Linked DNA regions of Homo sapiens: region 2 is linked to region 1. Evidence: fine-mapped expression QTL. Tissue or cell type: atrial appendage. Region 1 holds a variant in brackets; the other region holds the start of a gene. All regions are shown on one strand. Distances are from middle to middle.

Region 1 (11,011 bases):
TTTTTCTAGACAGGCAGTTTTTTAACTACTAGTACCACTTAGGAAAACTGATGCTAAAAGTCCCTAACAAAGGCCTGGTTTTAGTAATCAGAAACAGTTTCAGAACCTGTTTAGTAATCAGAAACAGTAGAATAAACTAAAGGATTTTTTTTCCTTCCCTTTTTCTTTGATAATCAACTTTATTTATTTTGAGGCGGTGCAGCATAGTGTATAAGAGCCAAGGTTTATCTACCCATTGCAGGCTCTACTGTACCTCTCATTTGCTGGGTGATCTTGAGCAGTTTATCCTCTGTCTCAGTACTATCTGCTACTGGTAAAAATTAGGATACTAATTATATTTACTAGGGTCGTTGCAAGGATTATTAAGTGAAATAACAGGGAGTGTTTACAATAGGGTATGGTAAAGAATAACCTCTCGTAAAAGGATAGCTTGTTATTTTCTTGTCATTTTCTACTTTTTTCTGTCTTTTAAAGGTCTTGGACATTTTATTTACATAGAATTATAGCCAGAAAGATCAACTCAATTATAAATTCTGGGTTTGTTTTTTTTTAACCTATAACCCTTTTAACTGAGACTTTAGTTCTTATACTTCTTGGTTATCACCCTTTCCATTAGCTTTTAGTTAAGAGAGAGGTTGTAAACTCAGTGTCAATGCTATTTTTCAAAAATTGTTAAAATTTCATCAATGAAGTTTTGGGATTATTATAAGTTCTTGTGTCTTAAGGCCATCTGCTTTTATATCCAGTGATGTGGGATTTTAATCAGCCATTAATTAGGTAAGCATTCACTTTGAGGACAATATTCTGTTTTATCTTGGGTAGCATGGACAGTTTGTCACAGAAATAAGTTCCCTATTCAAACTTGGAATTAGCTGATTCAGAGTAACATATTAATAATATAAAAATGGCCATACCCTTTTATGGCGTAACATTATTTCTAGGTATTGTTTCTAAGGAAATAATTTTAAATATTGGGAAAAAATATTTTTACAATTTACAGTCTGTCTGACATTTGGTAAATAGCTAATTGTGATATATTCATATTAGGAGATAGGGTGCAGCCACTAAAATGATTTTGAGTATTGTTCATTAGTAATGGTAATTTTCTTTTATACAATTTTATAAAATTTTTGCTCTTATGTACTGACTTTTCTGGTTTATAAAAATACTTTATTAAAAAGTGAGAGTTTCCATTTAATTAACATATAGCTTACAGATCTATACAAGATGTGATTGTATTTAGAGCATTTGAAGTACTCTTTTTCTAATTATATGAAAAGCATATAATTTCTGCCTTTTTATTCTTTAACTCATGGTTACTTTGTCACTCTTTATAAGTTTGATTTTAATTTTTCCCAGGTGACCTAAAGAATTAATGACCATTCAGAAATAAAGCAAAAAGCAGGCCACAACCTTAACCAACACCAAAGAAACATCCAAGCAATAAAGTGGAAGACTAACCAAGATTTGGACATTGGAATGTTTACTGTTATTCTTTAAGAAACAACTACAAAAAGAAAATGTCAACAAATTTTTCCAGCAAGCTGAGAACCTGGGAATTCCTGCACGGAAGACAAGAGAGTAGCCTCTCCAGTTTCAGCAACCGCTAGGTTTCTATTTTTTTTCCTGGTTTTTACTGTTTTGGTAATATATATATTGAAACAAGAAATATTAATACCACATGGGGAGAACCCCAACCAAAGAAATCTGAAATATATAGTAAATGCTTTTTTTTCCGTTTTTGTTCATTTTGGATGCTGGTGCTAAACCTCCAAGTGTCATGATTTAAAAAAAAAAAAAATTTATGTCCTTCTTATTTATTTCTAGGATGAGGGGAGGATAACATTTTTGCTTTCTTATGTGACTCTCTTTGAAAATGTGCAGTAAGAAATTCCTCAAAAATAAAATTTTTACCCTTCAGAGGACAGAATGTTTAATGGGAGTGTATTTTTGCCGACCTTAGCGTGTGTTTGTCTTCTCCACCACTTGATTTACTTGACTTGATTAATAGTAAATTCAAAGCCAAATGTAAAGTTAAGTTAATGCTGTTTCACAAATTTAGGCATATAAGCTTGAGATGATAAAAAATTGGATTCCTGTTGAAATGTACAGCTGGAAATTGACAAGTTCATGTCTGAGTTCAGTAGTAGGCATGAATTATTTGGTACTGTCTCTTTTTGAGTAATCTTCATTCAGTGAGGTGACGTGATGACCTTTAGATTAACGAAGGAGTTAATAGTTCTAACATCCTTCAACTTCCAGCCTGAGGTTTTTACCAGTAACTGCTGTGTTGTAGGTATACAAGGGAGCTCTTTACAACTACATTTCTCCCCCTCCCAGCCATGGTGCCCCTAAGTTGAGAAAAACTATCGCAGCTGTCAGTGCCGTATAGTTACTTTTCAGAACTGCTGCAGCAGTACATATCCAGTGTAGGTTTGTGCTAAACATTATTCTAGTGGCTAGGATGGAACAAACCAACAAAATACCATTGTTTCAATGACCAGGTACATACAGAAAATAAACAAGTATGGAATTTAATTTAGATGGCAATAAGTGCTGTTAAGAAACATAAAACATGGTAGGAGGACAGGGACTGGCATAATCATAGGGGATATGTTGATTTTAAATAGTGGGGAGGGTCTCCTATTTAAATGGAGTCCTAAGGTGAAGGGGCATTAAACATTTGAGTATCTGCAGGGAAGAGCATTGCAGGTGGAGGGAGCATTCTTGGCCTAATAAATGGCAAGCAGGTGAATGTGAACTGTTCAAGAACCTTGTATTATCTTGCAAGTTAAAAGGGTTGGTAAAAATTGGTAATAGGCCAAGGCAAAAAAAAAATCAACTATTTTATTCTATTAAAAAAGGCTCCCATCTTGGTTCCAGTTTCCTCCAGGCAACCAGTTAGCATATCTTAAAAATAGACCCATTTCACATATTTCATGTGTGTGAGTCTCTGTGTGTGTGTGTGTGTGTGTGTGTATGTGTGTGTGTGATTGGCCGACTAATGCAAATTTGAGAAGAGGAAATGAGCTTAAATTGTGCTTATGTTAACAACTTAAAAACAATCATTAGACATATCCATGTTTAAAATTCTATGGATAGTTCAACTATACTATTTAGCCAGTCTTCTTTTTCCTAACTTCCCCTTCTCTCTTCCTGCTCACTTTAAAGCTATTCTAGTATAGAATATTTCAAACATACTTTTTAAAATGTTTTTAAAATGTACGTATACTTTTTGGCACTGATTTTCTTTTTCACCTAATATTTTTCCTATAGAGTCCTCTCATCATTTGTACTGACTATATAACATTCCATTACATAGCTATCCATAATTGTACTAGCCTTCTATCATGGGATATTGAGGGTATCTTAATTGCCATTGCAAACATTTTGCTTGATATAATCCCAACATCCTTACTTCTAAATACTGTCATCTGTTTCAGGATGGTAGCTATTCTATTTCTGGGAAAAAATAAAATAAAATGGAATGATGAATGCAGAGTTGGGGAAAACACACTGGTTGTAGGTACAGAAATAACACAAATTGGATGTGATGTGAGGATGGGCCAAAAGTATGTTATTTTACTGGTGAGGGACCTTGGATTGCTTTATCAAGAAATACAGGCTACCGGGGTGAGACCACAGCCAGAAATTAACTAGAAGGCTATCTGTCATACGGCAATCACAACTTAACTCTGTGGTTGTTCATATTTGATGGCACTGCACCTATCAGAAAATAGCACTATGCAAATCAGTATTTGCCTCCTACTATGTGTCAAGAGTGATGGGTGCTTTCAGATCACAAGTAAGTCAGCTGTAACTGTTATAAGGGCTCTTGTGTTTATTGCAAAGATGCAAGTTTTGAAAGCTTTTTGCTCTTAGTGGAGTGGATAAATGTGTTTATAAAGACATGTTTTGAGATTTTAAAGAAAAAATTTAGAGCTAAATTAGATTGAAGCTAGTTTCAGTTAAAAAATGGAAAAGAATCTCAAGATTGATTTTGTATATTATGGCATAAGCATTTTGTTTAATAAGAAAAAGTCTAGAAAGGATACAGGTGCTGATATAAATCTCTGGAAATGTGATCTTGTGCAGTAGCAGAAATAAGAATTCATCAGCTTTGTGATTTTCCCAAAATGCTTTGTGAAAGCATTTCATTTTAACTGATGAGCTAGCTCCAGAATCACCCAGGCTTTCAGAATGGGGATGGTAAGCTCTAATGAATGATCCACACTGGTCAAATAACACGGGGAGCTTAGTTTGCAGATCCCTCCCTATGCCTCTAGTTTGGACAGTATTCTAGTAAAAGGGGTATAGAATAGAGGCATCTGATAAAAGAGACTAGAAATCACCACTTTGTTATTGCCATAGTATTGTTCTTTTATGCATTGATCTCATTGTCAAATTCATGAAGGCTTGCACATAAGGGGTTCCAGGCAACGCCTGTGCCTGTCACATGGACTTGGCACCACTGGTGAAAACTCCCTCTTATCAGTTGAGAACAGAATTTCCCGAGTAATAAAAATTGTGGGAAGAAGTGTGTGTGTGTGTGTGTGTGTGTGTGTGTGTGTGTGTGTTGTTATTTTAAAAAGTTCCTAAGATGTTTTCCAGAATGGCTGTTAAGGGCCAAATTGTGTCCCCCTAAAACTCAAATGTTGAAGTCCTAACCTCCAGTACCTCAGAATGTAACCATATTGGGAGATAAGTTGTTTTAAGGGGTGATAGATGAGTTTAAAATAAGTCCATTTTAGGGTGAGGTCTAATCCAATATGACTGGTGTTCTTGTGAGGAGCAACACCAGAGACATGCGTGCACAGGGGGGTGGCCATTTGAAGAAGTTGCAAGAGGAAGGAAGGCCATCTGCAAGCCACGGAGAGGCCTCAGTGAACCAAACCTGCCAGCACCTTGATCTTGGACTTCCAACCTCCAGACCTGAGAAAAGGAATTTCTGTCGTGTAAGCCACTAATCTGTGGTATTTTCTTACGGCAGCCCTAGCAAACTACTACAGAGGCTATGTCACTTTACGTTCATGGCAGCAGCGTATAAGACCTGATTTCTTAACATCTTCATCAGCATTTGGTATTATTACCGTTATTTGTTTAACTTTTATAGGTGAGGTGATATTTATTGTGGCTTTAATTTGCATTTCCCTAATAGCTATATATTTTCATGTGCTTATTTACCATCTCTGTATCATTGGTGAAATGTCTTTTCATGTCTTTCATCAATTTTCTGATTGGGCTGTTTGGTTTTTGTTACTGTTTGAATTTTGGGAGTTCTTTGTATAATCTAGATATGAGTTCTTTGTCAAGGATGTGGTTTGTAAACATTTTTCTCCCAGTTTGTAGCTTGTCTTGACTTTTTTTTTTTTTTTCTTTCTTTCTGAGACAGAGTCTCACTTTGTTGCCAGGCTGGAGTACAGTGGTGCAATCTTGGCTCACTGCAGCTGCCGCCTCCCAGGTTCAAGCGATTCTTCTGCCTCAGCCTCCCATAGCTGGGATTACAGGCACATGCCACCACACCTGGCTAATTTTTGTATTTTTAGTAGAGCCTGGGTTTCACCATATTGGCCCGGATTGTCTCTCTCTCTTGAACTTGTGATCCACCCACCTTGGCCACCCAAAGTGCTGGGGATTACAGGTGTGAGAACCATGCCTGGCCGTCTTTACCCTTTTAACAGTGTCTTGTGCAGAACAAAACTTTTTAATTTTGGTGAACTCCAGTTTATTGTTTTTGTTTTTTGTTTTTGTTTTTTCCTTTATTGATTGTGCTTTTGGTGTTATTTATGTCTAAGAACTCTTTACCTAGCCTTGGTCTTAAAGATATTCTTCCATGTTTTTCTCCATCTTTGTGTCTAAGATAGGAAGTTTAAGTTGTTTTCACCTATGTCT[G/A]TCTAGTTGTCCCAGCACCATTTGTTGAAAAGACTGTCTTAGTTGAATAGCTTTTCTATACCATTGCCAAAGTCCACTTGGCTCTGCTTGTGTGGGTCTTTTTCTAGGGTCTCTAATCTGTTCCACTGGTCTTGTTTGTTATCTCTCTGCCAATAACACATTGCCATAATTACATAAATCTTAGTATCAGGTACAGTGATTCTTCCCACTTTATTCTTTTTCACAATTGTTTTAGCTATTCTAGTTCTTTTGCCTTCCTGTGTACATTCTAGAATAAGCTAATCTGTTTCTAAAAAAAAAACCTTGCTTGGATTTTGATACAGAATGTGTTAAGCCCTTGATTAGTCTGGAGAGAATTGATGTTGAGTCTTCCAATCCATGAACACGTACATCTCTCTATTTATTCAAATCTTTGATTTCTTTCATCTGCATTTTACTTTTCAGCATATAAGTTCTGTACATATTTAATTAGGCTTATACCCAAGTATTTCATTTTCAGTGATTGCAAGTGGTACTATAAGCTTTCACTGTTCATAACTAGTGTATAGAAATAGAATGGATTTGTATATGTTGACCTTTTATGCTACAAATTCACTGAACTTACAGTTTTAGGAAATGTTTTGGTAGATTATGTTATCTGCAAGTAGGCACAGTTTTATTTTTTCCATTCTAATCTGTATGCCATTTATTCATTTATTTTCTGTTCTTTATTTTTATTATTTATTTATTTATTTATTTAGAGACGGAGTCTTGCTCTGTCACCCGGGCTGGGGTGCAGTGGCGCGATCTCGGCTCACTGCAAGCACCGCCTCACGGATTCACGCCATTCTCCTGCCTCAGCCTCCCGAATAGCTGGGACTACCGGCGCCCGCCACCACGCCCAGCTAATTTTTTTGTATTTTTAGTAGAGACAGGGTTTCACCGTGTTAGCCAGGATGGTCTCAATCTCCTGACCTTGTGATCCGCCCGCCTCGGCCTTCCAAAGTGCTGGGATTACAGGCGTGAGCCACCGCGCCGGGCCTATTTTCTGTTCTTACTGTGCTGACTGGTGAGGACATTCAGTGTTATATTAACTGAGAATAGTAGAGTGGATATTCTTGCCTTTTTCCCAATATTAGGGAGAAAGCATTCAGCCTTTCACCATTAAGTATCACGTTAGCTGTAGGTATTTTTGTAGATCTTCTTTATCAGGTTCAGGAAGATCCTCTCTATTTTCTAGTTTGCTGAGAGTTTTTATCATGGATGAGTATTGGATTTTGGCAAATGCTTTTCCTGCCTCAGTTGATATGATCGTATGATTTTTCCTCTTTAGCTTGTTAATATGGTGGGTTATATTGATTTTTAAATATTGAACCAGCCTAGCATTCCCTGAATAAATGCACTTAGTCATGTTGTATAATGTTAAATATATTATTGGATTTAACTTGCTAATATTTTATTGAAGTTTTGTACTCCTCTGTGCATGAGGGATATTGGTGTGTAGTTTTTCTTTTTTCTGTACTGTCTTTGTCTGGTTTTGGTATCACAGTTAGCATTAGCCTTATAAAATGAGATGGAAAGTGTTCCTTCCTCTTCTGTTTTTTGGAAGAGATTATGTATAATTGATGTTAAATTTTCTTTAAATGTTTGGTAGCATCTGAGCATAGAGTATTTTTTTTGAGAATTTTTAAACTACAAATTTAACAATTATAGGTCTATTCAAATTATCTATTTTATATTGGGTGAGTTTTGGTAGTTTATGCTTTTTAAGGAATTCATTGTCTCTAAATTATTACCACATTTGTGTATGAAGAGTTATAATGATTTTTTAGATTTTATTTTTAAGTCTTTGGGGATGGTAGTAAAATCTCTGTTTCACTACTGATATTTGTAATTTGCATCATTTTTTTCTTTGTCAGTCTCACAAGAGGTTTTCAATTTCATCAAAATTTTCAAAGAACCAGCTTTTTGTTTTATTGATTTTTCTCTGGTTTTCTGTTTTGCACTTTATTGACATCTGCTCTTTATTATTTCTTTTTTCCTGCTTGTTTTAGGTTTATTTTGTCCTTTTTCTGATTCTTAAGATTGGAGCTCAGATTATTTATTTTTGACTTTTTTCCTATTCTAATATAAACACTTATGCTATAAATTTCCTTCTCAGCATGGCATTAATTGTGCCCACAGATTTCAAATGTTGTATTCATATTTTCATACAGTTTAATGTATTTTAAAATTTATCTTGAAACGTCTTCATTGACCCATTAAGAAGTACGGTGTTTAATTTCAAATGCTTGTTGGTTTTTCTGTTATTCTGGTATTAATTTCTAATTTTATTTCATCATAATCAGGGAACACACACTGTATCATTTTGATTATTTTAATTTGTTGAGTTTTATTTGGTTTACGGTCCAGGATATGGTCTGTCTTAGTGAATGTTCCATGGGCTCTAAAAAATAATTCTGCTATTGTTTAGTGGTTTTGGTGATATTATTCTTTATCCTTGCACCAATAGAAAGACCATCTAATCATGTAATTTCTGCTCTGTGAACATGATAACTGCTGAGTTTTGGGAGAGACAAGGGAACCTGGGGCCATATGCTGACTGAGGTTGCCAAAAGAACTGGTTTGAACCAGCCAATTAAAGCACCTCCCCCATTTTGAAACTTGCCTTGCGGACTCAAGTAGATCTAACCAAAACCTGTCTTGACTACTCCAGAAGTCAGAGAAATTGGGTGGGGCAAAGTGAAAGATTATAAAAATTTTGTGAAAAATGTTGAGAAGCATGGTATGAAGTTACCTTTAAAGTCTCTTGCATAAATGAACAACACATTAAATACCAATGTTCTCAACATTGTTTTAGGCCTCCACAACAATCCTTGCTAGTCACTTTTGTTGCCATTTAGGAAATGTGAATATTGTGGATGCTGGTTACACAAATGTATTATAAGACTGAAATTCACAGAAAGTAGGCTGGATGGAGAACAAGCTCGGGAGTTATAATATCTAGGTTCAGGTCTAAAGCCCTCATCATCTATAACCTCAGGCTGCTCACTCCAGAACGTGGTTTCAACATATTTGAAAGGAAAAATGTAGTTTTCAACTAAAGGTAAAGGGGAAGACATTTCAGATTATCCCAGCTCTCCCTCAAGTAGAATATGCCATTGTCTTTTTGTGGATGGCTCTGTCCTGGTCTCATCTAGGGATTATGTTTCACTGCCTGAGACATGTAATCTATACCTCTACATAATTGTAGGACAAAGGATAGTGGAGGTCTCGGCCCATGTAGAGTAATCCAAGTGTGTGCCAATGACATTGTATCATAAGTATAGCCAACCAGAATAGGTAAGAGAGAAGCTAAACAAAGATCAAATACGTTGCTCGTTCTGGTCATTTAGTTTCTATTTAGAAAAGTGTATTTAAACTGTGGTATTAGATCGTTTTTGACAAGTACAGTTTGAGATAACCCTGATGATGTTGTGAAAGTAAAGTGTGCTGATAATGACTTTCCTTATTATTCTTATTCCTGAAGTCATTTTCTTGACAGACTCAGAACTTTCAGACCCTTTCCTCCTACTTTTTCTGCTTAGTGCTTCTCCTTTTTCTTTTTAAGGTTAAATTTTAAGGTTAAATGACTGCTGATGGCATGTGCAATTGTTAATCATTTCCATCATCCCCAACAAGCAGCATTTGGTAGGTATTGAGGCCTTCCTTTATGAAGTTCGTTGTAGTTGGGAAGGTTTTGATGGTTAATTTTGTGTGTCAACTTGACTGGCCACAGGGTACCCAGATTAAACACTATTTTGAGGTGTGCCTGTGAGAGTGTTTCCAGAAGAGATTAGCATTTGAACCTGTAGATTCAGTAAATTGATTGTCCTTCACAGTGTGTGTGGGCATCACCTAATCCATTGAAGCCATGAATAGAGCAAAAGGCAGATGAAGGAGGAATTTGCCCCTTTTTCCCTGCCTCACCACTTGAACTGGAACATGTCGTCTCATCTTCTCTTGCCTGAGACTGGTATTTACACCATTGGCTCCTCTGACTCTCAGGCCTTTGGACTCAGACTGAATTAAACCACTGGCATCTCTGGAACTCCAGCTTACAGACAGCAAGCAGTTCTCAGCCTCTATAATGAGCCAATTCCTTATAATAAACCTTTTACATACATCATATATATACATCATATACACACACATCATATATATACACATATATACATCGTATATCATATATGTGAGATATATATATGTGTGTATATATCTCATATATATATATATATATATATATATATATGCTACTGGTTCTGATTCTCTGGAGAACCCCGACTAATAGAGATTTTGGTAGTGAGAGTGCTTCTAGAGGAATAGAATTTTAAGGATGAGTTTTCAGAATTCCTTCTGGAGTTCCCAGAATTGACTCTCTAATCTGATTAGATTTAAAGATGCTAATGACTACTTCCAGTAGTAAATAAAGCATTGATAGTGTATGACATGAACTGTTTATGGAGATATGCAAAATTTCTCCACTGGGTACTCCTAGTCCACCACTTACAAGGAAGCAAGGAGCTAAGTGACTATGTATATGATACTTTCAATCATTTTTGGAAAACTAAGGAAAATAATGATGTTAGTTGGTTGTTCCTATGTTTCTAGACAGAGTAGTGAAAGAAAAGGATGAGCTCAGGGATATGAAATCTCAGCTTAAGCACTACATAACTGTCTCAAGAGCTTCTATGTTTGACCTGAAGGAGACTCTTACCTCCTGTAGCTGTACGGCTGAAATTGCTGAAAATCGAAGGCAGAACCTCATCCTGTGACTGGCCGAGTACACTGCAAGTTGAATTCCCAGCTTTGCATGGTATGTTGTATTGAAGTGAGGGCATTAAATGAAAAAGCATGGGATCCTATACATTGGGATGTGGCTGTGTGGCAAGACCCTGATGAAGCTGGGGACATTGAGTCCCTCATTCTTATAGCATTCTTTACAAGTAGAAGAGGTCTTCCTAGCCCCCACAGAAGTGGTCCCCTCAACTCCAGAAGCAGCAGCCTCCCCATGCTCAATACAGTGGCATCCTCACCCCCAGTGGTATTAACCCTGAATTGCCTGAGAAAATAGTAATTGCCTTCCCTGAGACAGTGGCCC
Region 2 (10,184 bases), 28 kb before region 1:
AATCTTTCTCTCTTGGAATTTTCTTAGGAACCAGTTTTCTTTCTCCCAAATTTTCTCATTCTCAATTTCTACTCCAAAGTTCCCATGTTAAAGGAACATCAAAATCCAATTAAACAGATGTCTCCAAAAGATGAGTATTTAAATAGATCATTACGGTGAGCCACTAGGGATGCTAATAGAGATCAAATGAAAGTCTGACTAAAAGGAAGAGTTCAATTCAAAGAGAAGAGAAGGAAGAATTTTGAAAAATTCTTTGAAAACTGAAGAAGAGACACATTGGATGATTTTCCTCTCTGTTTGCTGTTTGAGAGTCCCTTTTCCTCTTTGTTTGCTGTTTGAGAGTGCATTTTTAAGAATTATGATATCTACCAAGAAATAAAAGACACTATATCTTCTAGACAAGAATCTAGACTTGACATTCTCTGAGATTTAATTCCTAAACAAGTGAGGACATAAAGGGAGGTGACAAAGAAAGTTAAAAGAATAAAGAAAGCAGATTAAAACAGAAAAAAAGAGAAAAAATAGTATGTGCAAAAAGAGACAGAATAAAGCTTTTTTAGGAAGAAGAGAATATATTTTATTCATTGTTTCAGAACGTTCCAAAATGCTGTAAAATAAAATTGCACACAGCTGTTTGGTTTCCTCTCCAGAGGTCCTAATTGGAAAGATCTGAACATTACCTTCAGTGGCCAGAGAGCCTTGCTTTATTTCTTTTCTTAAGACAGGATCTCACTCTGTCACCCAGGCTAGAGCACAGTGGCATGATCATGGTTCACTGCAGCCTCGACCTCCCGGGCTCAAGTGATCCTCCCACCTCAGCCTCCTGAGTAGCCCTGAGTAGCTGGGACTACAGGCATGCACCACCATGTCCAGCACAGCTAATTTTTGCTGGTTTTTGTTTTGTTTGTTTGTTGTAGAGACGGGGTTTTGCTATGCTGTCCAGGCTGGTCCTGAACTCCTGGGCTCAAGTGACCCACCCGCCTCGGCCTCCCAAAGTGCTGCCTTGCTTTATTTTTGAGGGGACTCAATGCTACAGCATTGACATTTTGTCAATCAGAATTTTATGGTGGCAAGGGCGCTGAATTGGGTATAAGGAGACTCAGGTTTTGGTTCTAGCTTTGCCACTAAATACATAAATTAGTTCGAGAAAGTCAGTTAATCTCTGAACTGCAATTCCTTGTTTTTAAAATGAGTGGGGTTGAGATGGATACATTTCTTTCTAGTTCTTACTTATCAGATAATCTTGTCAAGTTCTTCCACCAAAACTGTACCAATCTCCTAGTCTTTAAACACTAAGAACACATCTAAATAGTTAAGAAAATAAGTAGAAGCAAAACAAATGCAACAAAGTCACTTAGAAGCTGGAACTTTTATATAAAATCAATATATGCTGAAATAATCAGGTTTTTCAAAACTTCTCAGTAATCGCTTGTTTTTTTTTTTCCTCCTGCTTAATAATTTCAGGTCTAGAGGTGCAACATTTTCTGAACTCTAAATCCAGCTTCCCATAGGGGAGAGTAAAGTCACAGCCAATTCCCCACCATATTCTCAGTTCTCTTAATGAAAAGGAAGAAATCCTATAATACATCTTCATTATGGTAGGCCAATATATGTGAAAGTTAAAGAAGAAGCATAGTCCATAAAGGCAGTGGTGACAGGGAATGGATATTGTAAATTCACTTTGTTTACATGCCCTAGAGATCATCAGTGACATCATTATAGAGTTATTCAGAATTATGGCATTATGGTTCATGTAAATTCTTTGGATATTATATGTCACAAAGGAAGCTCAAACCAGCCCAACAGGTAGCATTATCTTGCTGGGTAGCCACAGACTGATGTATGGTCCAGCTTTCAGGCCCAGGACTTTTTCCCAATGGAATCCTGAAGAATTATTCAGGTTAAACTTCTAATTGTCTAGAAGGCTTGTGCTACTCAATATGGTAGTCATCAGCCACACCGAACTCTTTAAATGTGAGTTCAAATTGAGATGTCTTAGAAGTGTAAGATACACACTTTGAAGATAGTACCAAAAAAAAAAAAAAAGAGGAATGTAGAATACATCATTCATGGTTTTACCCTTGATTAAATGTGGAAATAATATATATTTTATATTGATTAAGTTAGGTAAAATCTATTAAAATTAATTTCATCTGTTTTTTACTGTTTTATTGTGGCTGCTTGAAAATTTAAAATTAAATATTTGGTTCACATTTGGGGCTCAAATTATATTTCCAATGGGACAGTATGGGTCTATACCATTAATTCATTCAATACAGGGGCATTCCTGCCTGTTTTGCATGATGTTCTTAGCACCAAATTGCAATGATTAATAAATGTGCTGAATGCATTACTACTGAGTGCCAAACAGAGCGTGATAACCAAGGTCCACTCTCCCCCTGAACATTGCTGGAGACATCCTGAAATACCTTTACTCTCTTATTCTTGCACTTTTTTGTTCCAAACTGACCATTTCCCTCATGTTCTTTTTTGTATCAATTAAGTTGAGATTAATACTTCACTGTTTTCCAGTTTCAAATATGCTAATACACAAAGCTTCCTTATTTTAAGCTCCAGTCCCTTGAATAACTTGAATTCTCCTCAATCTCCTTAGTCAATTAATTGCATTTTCTTCCTTAGGGTGATATGCTGGATAGCCTCCTGTCAATTTAGCATCAACTTTAGCTTCTTCAAATGCAGAGACTACATTTCCCAGAATCTCCCTCCCGGCCTGTATATTTCCAAGTTGGAATCTAACAATGAGAGCCTTTCGCTCAAAGTTTAGAAGGAAGAAGAGAAGACCATTATATACCAGAGTCAGTTATAGAAAGATGCATCGGCATCAAAGCTGCTTCCAGATGAACTTCTTGAGGACTTACTGCATCGGTGTTGCTGACTGAGATAGCAGGTGCAGGAGTAAAGCTAATGAAGTTTAAATTTCAGGGCTCCTGTCTTGCACGGACCCTTTCGAAGACTCTGGGAGCAGTCCTAGCATTTTAGTATTCATAACTTTATTTTATCTCAAAAAGGGCTCTCTAAATTGTATTAGTTTTAAGCATCACAAAACCTGAATCCAGCCCTGAATTGCTGAGAACTTCCGAAAGATCTTGTGGCTCCAGTGGCTTCAGGAGAACTCCTGAGAACCACTGTCTTGGGGACTGGAGGCTGAGATCTTCAGTGGAGCTTCTCTGAGTTTCCCTCCTTCAGCCCTTCCAACAGTTGTGAGAGCTTTAACTTCCTCCATACTAGGAACAGAGTGGCATTTGTTTTTATGATCAAACCAATAATTGCTTAAAAATGACTGCTGTCAGCAATTAGATTATAATTCTTTGTTGACTTACTCTTAAACTTAGTAAATGATGATATTGTCTTACAATAGAAATGTTGATAGTGAAAAATAATTTTAACATCATATCAAAAGACCTTACAACCGGCTCCATTTTGGTCAACATTGGATACTCACAATGGTGTACTTTGTCCGGGACATAGCATTTGCTTAGCAAATATGAGTGTATGAATTAGTGAATGAAGGAATGGATAAATTTATGTGTATCTGTATCCAAGTTGCTTCCTACTTATGATTATTAAAACATAGATCATATTTGTTCTAATTTTCTTTAGATTTATTTAGTACAATACCAACAACTTCCAGCTGCTCACTGCTTTGTTTGGATGACAATGATGAGTAGTTTTGGAAGCCAGTCCAGCACAAATTCTAGGAAATCCCAGGGTGCATCTGTAATTATTTTAGGGTCTTCCAGAGGTTGGAGATCACACCTGTTAGTTATGAATTACTTCCAAGGATGAATTTTTTTAAAAGGCTTTACTGTTGGATCGGTTTGAAGAGTTCAATCTCCTTACTTTTTTTTCTTGTAATGTAATTCTGAAAGGTAAATAGCAATGATAATCATTTTGCTGAATAAGAAAGTCAATGGTCAGTCCTCACCAGAATAAATCATGTTTATAATTTAATTGTAATTAAGACCATAATCTTTCACATGAAGAAATAATTTAATCATTCTTAGAATTAGACCAGCATTTTAAAAGCATCTACATTTATATAACATCACTGTATGCTCCATACTGAAGTCAAACTAAAATATGAATCTAACATTTAAGAGTTTGTAATTTTTTAAATATTGATGAATTACATAGAAAAGCTCAAAATTACATAATTTGCTATTTTTTCAAATAACTTATTTTCTTTGTGTTTTTTGTGGATGAAATAAGAAAGTAAGAATTCAGGAAAGTTTCATAATAATTGATAGCAAATGTGCAGATAAGTAATTGAGTTTGGAAGAATTTGGTCTGTTTTCATTTTGTAAACATTCACTATGTCCAAACTCTGTGCTACGTACTGTACTAACCAGTGGAGATACAAAGATGAATTACACTTGATAGTTACCCTACTGATGTTAAGGTAGACATCGACATTACAGACATATTCCTGGAAAAAAATTTGGTAAATTGTTTGAGGGAACAGGCAATAACTTAAAAAACAAACAAAACAAAGGAGCTTTAGGTGGACCGGACACTGGAGTGACACATGATAATCTCATCTACTTTTCATGTCACCTTTGAGAACCTCTCATAAAGCAGGAAACCGACTCTGGGACATTGAATCTCTGTCCCAAGTTAACCTGGTTAATAAAAAACAAAGCCAGAATTTATACCTAGTCTGTCTGAACCCTAGGGGCCAAATAGTCCTGTATTCCAGACAGTCTTTGGGTACAGATCCCAGACCCTCTGGCCCTGTGTTTACTACCATCCAGCCCATTCTCAAAGGGCATGTGGGCTCTTCAACTTGGGAATAATGTTTATTGGGTGATCTGTTTCTCTATACCTCTCATCCTCGAGGCTAAGAGGGCTCAGTTCCTTAAGCTTTCACCAGCTGGCAGAGGCAACTGGAGCAGAAGGTAGGAAGTGGATTTATTCAGCTTTTTTTGTGTGTGTTCCTTATTAAATATATATTGACAGCTCCTTATTTGTTGCGGTTAAATTGGTGTAAACTCTGAATTTACATTAAATCTGTGAGGTCAATTTCCTCATCTGCGTGTTACAGATGAAATTATCCGTATATTACCTTTCAGGAGTAAGTTGCCAAATAGTCTTAAGGTTTTATTATTCCAGGTCTTAACAGCTGTGCTACGAATAGCTGCTGGTGCTTGATACATGTTGAATGACTGACTAGATGCAAAGGATTTAAAAACAAGTGTTTGAGAGGGTAAAGCGCAGAGTAGTTTGGGTGCCCTATTTTACCTCTCCTTGTCAGCTGCGGGTGTCAAGACGGGTTGAGGGAGGAGAGCCAATGCACCCCGCTCCAACAAAGGGTCAGCAGCGCGGGCTCCTCGGAACGCTCCAGAAGACAACCCGGGCGCCCCGTTCACCCTGGCTTTCCTTGGTTCTGCAACGCGACCCGCGCGCTCGCGTCCCGGCGGATTGGAGCCATAGAAAGCGCACCGGGCGCCTTTAAATGCTAATGAGAGTCCAGGGCCCGACTCCCGAGCCAAGTTTCCCCACCCTCTCCCCTCGCCCGCCCTTCCCTCCCGGGCCGGTGCGCCGCCTAGAAAAACTTGTGCGGGGCCATTTTTGGGGCAGTAAGATCGAGCGAGGAGCCCAAGAGAGAGCGCGCAGCACGAAGCTCGAGCCGCCTCCGCCGCGCGACCCCACCTCGGCCGCCGCCGCCTGCGCCGCGAGATCCGCCCCGGCCTCCCCGAGAGCGAGCCCCGGCCGCCGCGACCACCAGCCGCGCTAACCGCCGACCAACCGCCACCGAGGCGCCTGAGCGAGAGCAGAGGAGGAGGAGGCATGAGTGAGGCGGGCGAGGCCACCACCACCACCACCACCACCCTCCCGCAGGCTCCGACGGAGGCGGCCGCCGCGGCTCCCCAGGACCCCGCGCCCAAGAGCCCGGTGGGCAGCGGTGCGCCCCAGGCCGCGGCCCCGGCGCCCGCCGCCCACGTCGCAGGAAACCCCGGTGGGGACGCGGCCCCCGCAGCCACGGGCACCGCGGCCGCCGCCTCTTTAGCCACCGCCGCCGGCAGCGAAGACGCGGAGAAAAAAGTTCTCGGTGAGTCAGGCCAGGGAGGGCAGGGGCTGCCGTAGTGGGGCGGGCCCAGCCGGCCGCGGAGCACGTGTGGGCAGCTCGCGCTACATCTCCCACCCGGGCTGGAGACGCTGACAGCACAGGGTCCCCAGGGATCTCCGGGTCCCCAGGGGTCTCCGGGTCCCCAGCGCTGGCCGCCTCCCTTGCCGGCGCTCCCAGGTGAGCGCGCTGCGCCCTGCGCTCCTGGCGGCCGTGTGCATCTCCCTTCTGGTTCCGGGCCAGAAAGTTTAGGTCTTAACTTCTGTCTCCCAGACGGGCACTGTTGCGGATTCGCGTGGTGGAAAATGCCTGCGTTTGGAGAAGAAAGGAGAGGCAGTCTGGGAGAGGGGACCTTGGGTAGGGATGGATGTAGGGGAAGGACCGACACGTGGGCCTGGCGCTTTGGGGTCCTTGCTTGGGATCTGGGAAAGGAGAGCATTTCCTTTGGGGAAGAGGAGGGCGCTAGAAGGAGACGGGGAGGGAAAGATAGAAAAGCTTCTTGCCAGGAAGGGTCAGGTGTCTGTCCCTGACGCCCTTCCCACATGGGCATGGGAAAGACGCCATGCTCCTGTTGGCCACATGCCAGCAAAGAGATGTTGCAATCGTCTCCGGGAAACTTGGGTCTTAGTCCCACGTCTTCCTCCCCCTCTCTGTGCCCACGGCTGCAAACAGCCATTCAGTGTCCACCAATGGCTACACGCTTCCCTCTTCCCGGACTGTGGGAACGCACGTGGTGTAGCAGCTGAAAAAACTTTGTCGGAAGTGGGGGTATGACGTTAGTTCAAAACATTGTTACCTTGGCACTTGTAACGTAGGAAGGGAAACAGGAAGATGAAATGTTGAGATTTGGGGGGGCAGTGGATGGAAAGGGTTTCTGTGATGGTTGTTGGTTTAGTCACATAACAAGCGTTCTTTTCGTAAGTAACGCCCCTGTGTGAGTTCTTAAACGCTTGCAAAGCAGGTGGGTGGTGAATAACCTCCCTAAAGGGTGTGTGTCCATATCGTTCGCTCTTATAAACAGGAACGTTAACAGATGGTGTAGGATGCTTCGGAGACCTCTTCACTATTTGGGGTGGGGCATGTTTGTCTCATCTCTCTGAGCCCTACTTCCCCTTTGGGAAGAAAGTTGAGGGAGCAATGTGAGAGAAGTGTATTCAATATTCCCCACCTTGAGAGGACTATTTTCTTGTTTTTTTTTTCTAGGGCTTTTACTAAGTCCCTACCAAACAACATGCTAATTGTAACCTGTGTAGGTTAAGAAACAAAATAGGCCTGATTTTGCTGGACTAAAAGTTGCTTAAATCTAGTCAGTAGTACATTGTGATGTTGTTTCTAGCAAATATTTCTTGGAACACTTTCTGCCAGATGTCTGAGAGAGAAAACCTTGTGTTCTCCAAAGCAGTGTTAGGATAACATTGTTAATGATACCTTATTTTGTAGAAAGCTTTTGCGGTTTTTCACTTAATCCTGTACTGTTCTGAGATTGGGAAAGCAGATACTATCTTTAAAGATGAAGGAAACAGATAAATGAAGGTTAATTTCCTCAAGCAACTGCCTCTGCAGATCCCTGGTGATGAGTCTGATGCCTTTTATCTTTCCACTCTTACTGCGTCTCTCTAAAAATGAAGGACAGCCCTTTCTACGTGACACCTCAACACTGTTTGTCTCTGTCTAGTGTGTCCTGCCATCCCCTTTCCTTTGCCAAGCAAACACATAGATGCCTAAGATGTACTAGGCACAATGCTGACTAAAATGGATATGTTCTAGTATTTGCAAATGGGCCTTCACTTGAGTTTATAAGCACATAGGCCAGGAAAAATAGTTTTCATGAGTGCAAAAAAATTTTCCTTCTGATAAATGTTATGGAAATCTATGGTCTTCCTCCCCAACCCTTCCCCTTAGTGTATATGAAGTGGGTTTATGGTTTAAAGCAAGACGTGGGAATGAATTTGATCATAAGAAGTCCTTGGAGAAGTATTTGCGGAATTACGAAACTTTTTTAAACTACATTGGAGAGTAAAAATAACCTTCAGCTTGGATTGAGGTTAGACCTGAGAATTATTTATCATCTTTTTCCTTTATTATTAGTATTGTCATTTTAATCAAGATTATTCCTTCAACAATGCTAGATATTAAAAACAGTTCCAGTCTTTATATTTTCCCAGGTAATTAATTTTTTGGGCAAATGAAAAGAGGCACTAAACGCATATTATTTGGAATATTGCCTGACTTAAATGCATATAATGTATCAAAAACAGGCCTCTACTGTGTACATTTGCATCGAAAACATCAACTGTTTTTTTCTCCTTTGCCTTGCTGCTCCAATCAGAGTGGCCTCAAACGTAAGATGGCCTGGGTTTGATCTCTCCTTTGGAGAGATGAGAGATCTTTGGAATTAAAGCTGGAGAATGCCTCATCAGTGTAGACTGCATAACTTTGGAGATATAAAGACATGTTTTTTTTGTTTTGGATTTTCTTTCCCCCAACAAAGAGAGCTAAAGTATTTTCCCAAGTGTATCAGTCTAGCAAACTTCAGAACTACCCCTGCCTACAACAGAGCAAGTCTTAATTACTATTTTAGTTTTGAATTTAAAAGTGAAGCCTTATTGTTTATCCTTGGAAATTATAAACTTTGTATCTTATGAAAAGACAGTATGGATTGATGTTAATAATTACTTTCATTCTCTACTGAGGCTTTTTTCTTTATTTTTTCTTTAAGGTAATCTATTATCAGGTTTCCTGTTTCATTGAGTCTTTATAATTGCTTTTTGCACTTCCTGAATTGAGACAGGGGCATTTCCTAGAAGTACTGAATTTGTCATTCATAATTGATTCCAAAGATCATATTTGAAATAGTTGAGATAAATATAAACCTACAAAATACAAGTTACATGAAGTTTTATTTTGTTTAGATTCCTTCTCTCAATTCTGCTAAAATCAGGCATTGTAGAGAAGTGGTCCTGCTCATGAGGTAGAGACAACCATTATGGTAAAGAGGGGGATTTTATGGAAAAATGCTTAAGTTTGATTCGCAAAACTGTAGAGAGCAAGGTAAACAAAGAAACAAGCCCAAATTCATCATGTGATTTGAAAAGACCTGTTATATCACGTCTCAGAGTGGTAAGTACAGAACTGGATTGAGACAGCAGCAGTTCTATAATTATTCTTGACTCCTCTGATGAGCTCCCACTTGGCGACTGGACAAGTTGCTTTACGTCTTTGTAGATTGCCTGTTAACAAGGAGCCACCTTGTTTCTCATTAAAGTTTGCCTAATATTTCCAAGTATGAAAGTGATGTGTTAAGGTCTTTCACTCTTTTATTGTAGCTCCTATTTTGAACTTATAAAATTTGTCTAGGTTAAAACTTGGAACATTCATCTTGAACATTCTTTTTTTCCTTCAGTGTTTCTCAATTTTAATGATTACAGAATTGTATAGACTTATAACCACTCCTTATCTTGCGAGTTTCCTGAAAAGTTGAATAAGGAAGAAAGGTTTAGTCTTCTGAAAAGTATTTCCTTATGAGATCTTGGCTTGCTCCATTTTCTTTTTCTAAAGTATTTTGGAATTAAGCTTTTAATGGTTTCTTTAGGTATGTTTAGGCTTTGTCTAATGTTATCAAGATCTTAGTGATATGAGCTATATCTCTCTGTAGGTCAGATACTAATTTATCTGCTTAATCCTATTTTAGCCACCAAAGTCCTTGGCACTGTCAAATGGTTCAACGTCAGAAATGGATATGGATTTATAAATCGGTATGTGTGTGTGTATATTTGCATGTTTTAAGTTTATACTTACATTGTGGCACCAGGAGTTATAAATCCCTTAGCCTTCATTAATGGCTTATATAAATTTTTTAGGTTTCTAAGCACTGTAAATATTCTCATTTCTAAGCTACTGGTTGTTAAATATTACTTAAAATACATTTCCAGGACACTAATAAATAACTTATTTCATAAAATCTAGTCATTAAGGAAGAAAAGGAGGGGGAGATAAAATCAGAAATGGGAAGGGCCTTAGGATAAATGAGACCATATCCATAATTTCACAGATGGAGAAACGGAGTCTTACACTGGTTAAGCAGCTTTCCTAAGGTCAC

What was found. PIP is the estimated chance that this variant, and not a neighbour inherited with it, causes the effect.
Region 2: it holds the start of YBX3, and the variant in region 1 is the best candidate, but not a certain one, in a credible set for the expression of YBX3 in atrial appendage (GTEx, PIP 0.88).

What each region holds. Positions count from the first base shown.
Region 1 is chr12:10,690,003-10,701,013 of GRCh38, reverse strand. It overlaps YBX3 (Y-box binding protein 3), which reads left to right. Exons shown (of 10, transcript NM_003651.5): 10 at 1,360-1,925. Among named protein-coding and RNA genes, the nearest start is that of STYK1, 21 kb to the right of the region's middle. The variant G/A (reference allele first, on the strand shown) is at 5,893.
Region 2 is chr12:10,718,736-10,728,919 of GRCh38, reverse strand. YBX3 (Y-box binding protein 3) reads left to right here and starts at 5,597. Exons shown (of 10, transcript NM_003651.5): 1 at 5,597-6,070; 2 at 9,777-9,840. The coding sequence starts at 5,809. It overlaps LOC124902876, which reads right to left and starts at 5,868. Exons shown (of 2, transcript XM_047429946.1): 1 at 5,260-5,868; 2 at 3,602-3,883. The coding sequence starts at 5,810. The coding sequence ends at 3,814. It overlaps LOC112268104 (a long non-coding RNA gene), which reads left to right. Exons shown (of 4, transcript XR_002957443.2): 4 at 2,641-2,728. RefSeq lists silencers at 5,482-5,701, 5,722-5,821, 5,952-6,351.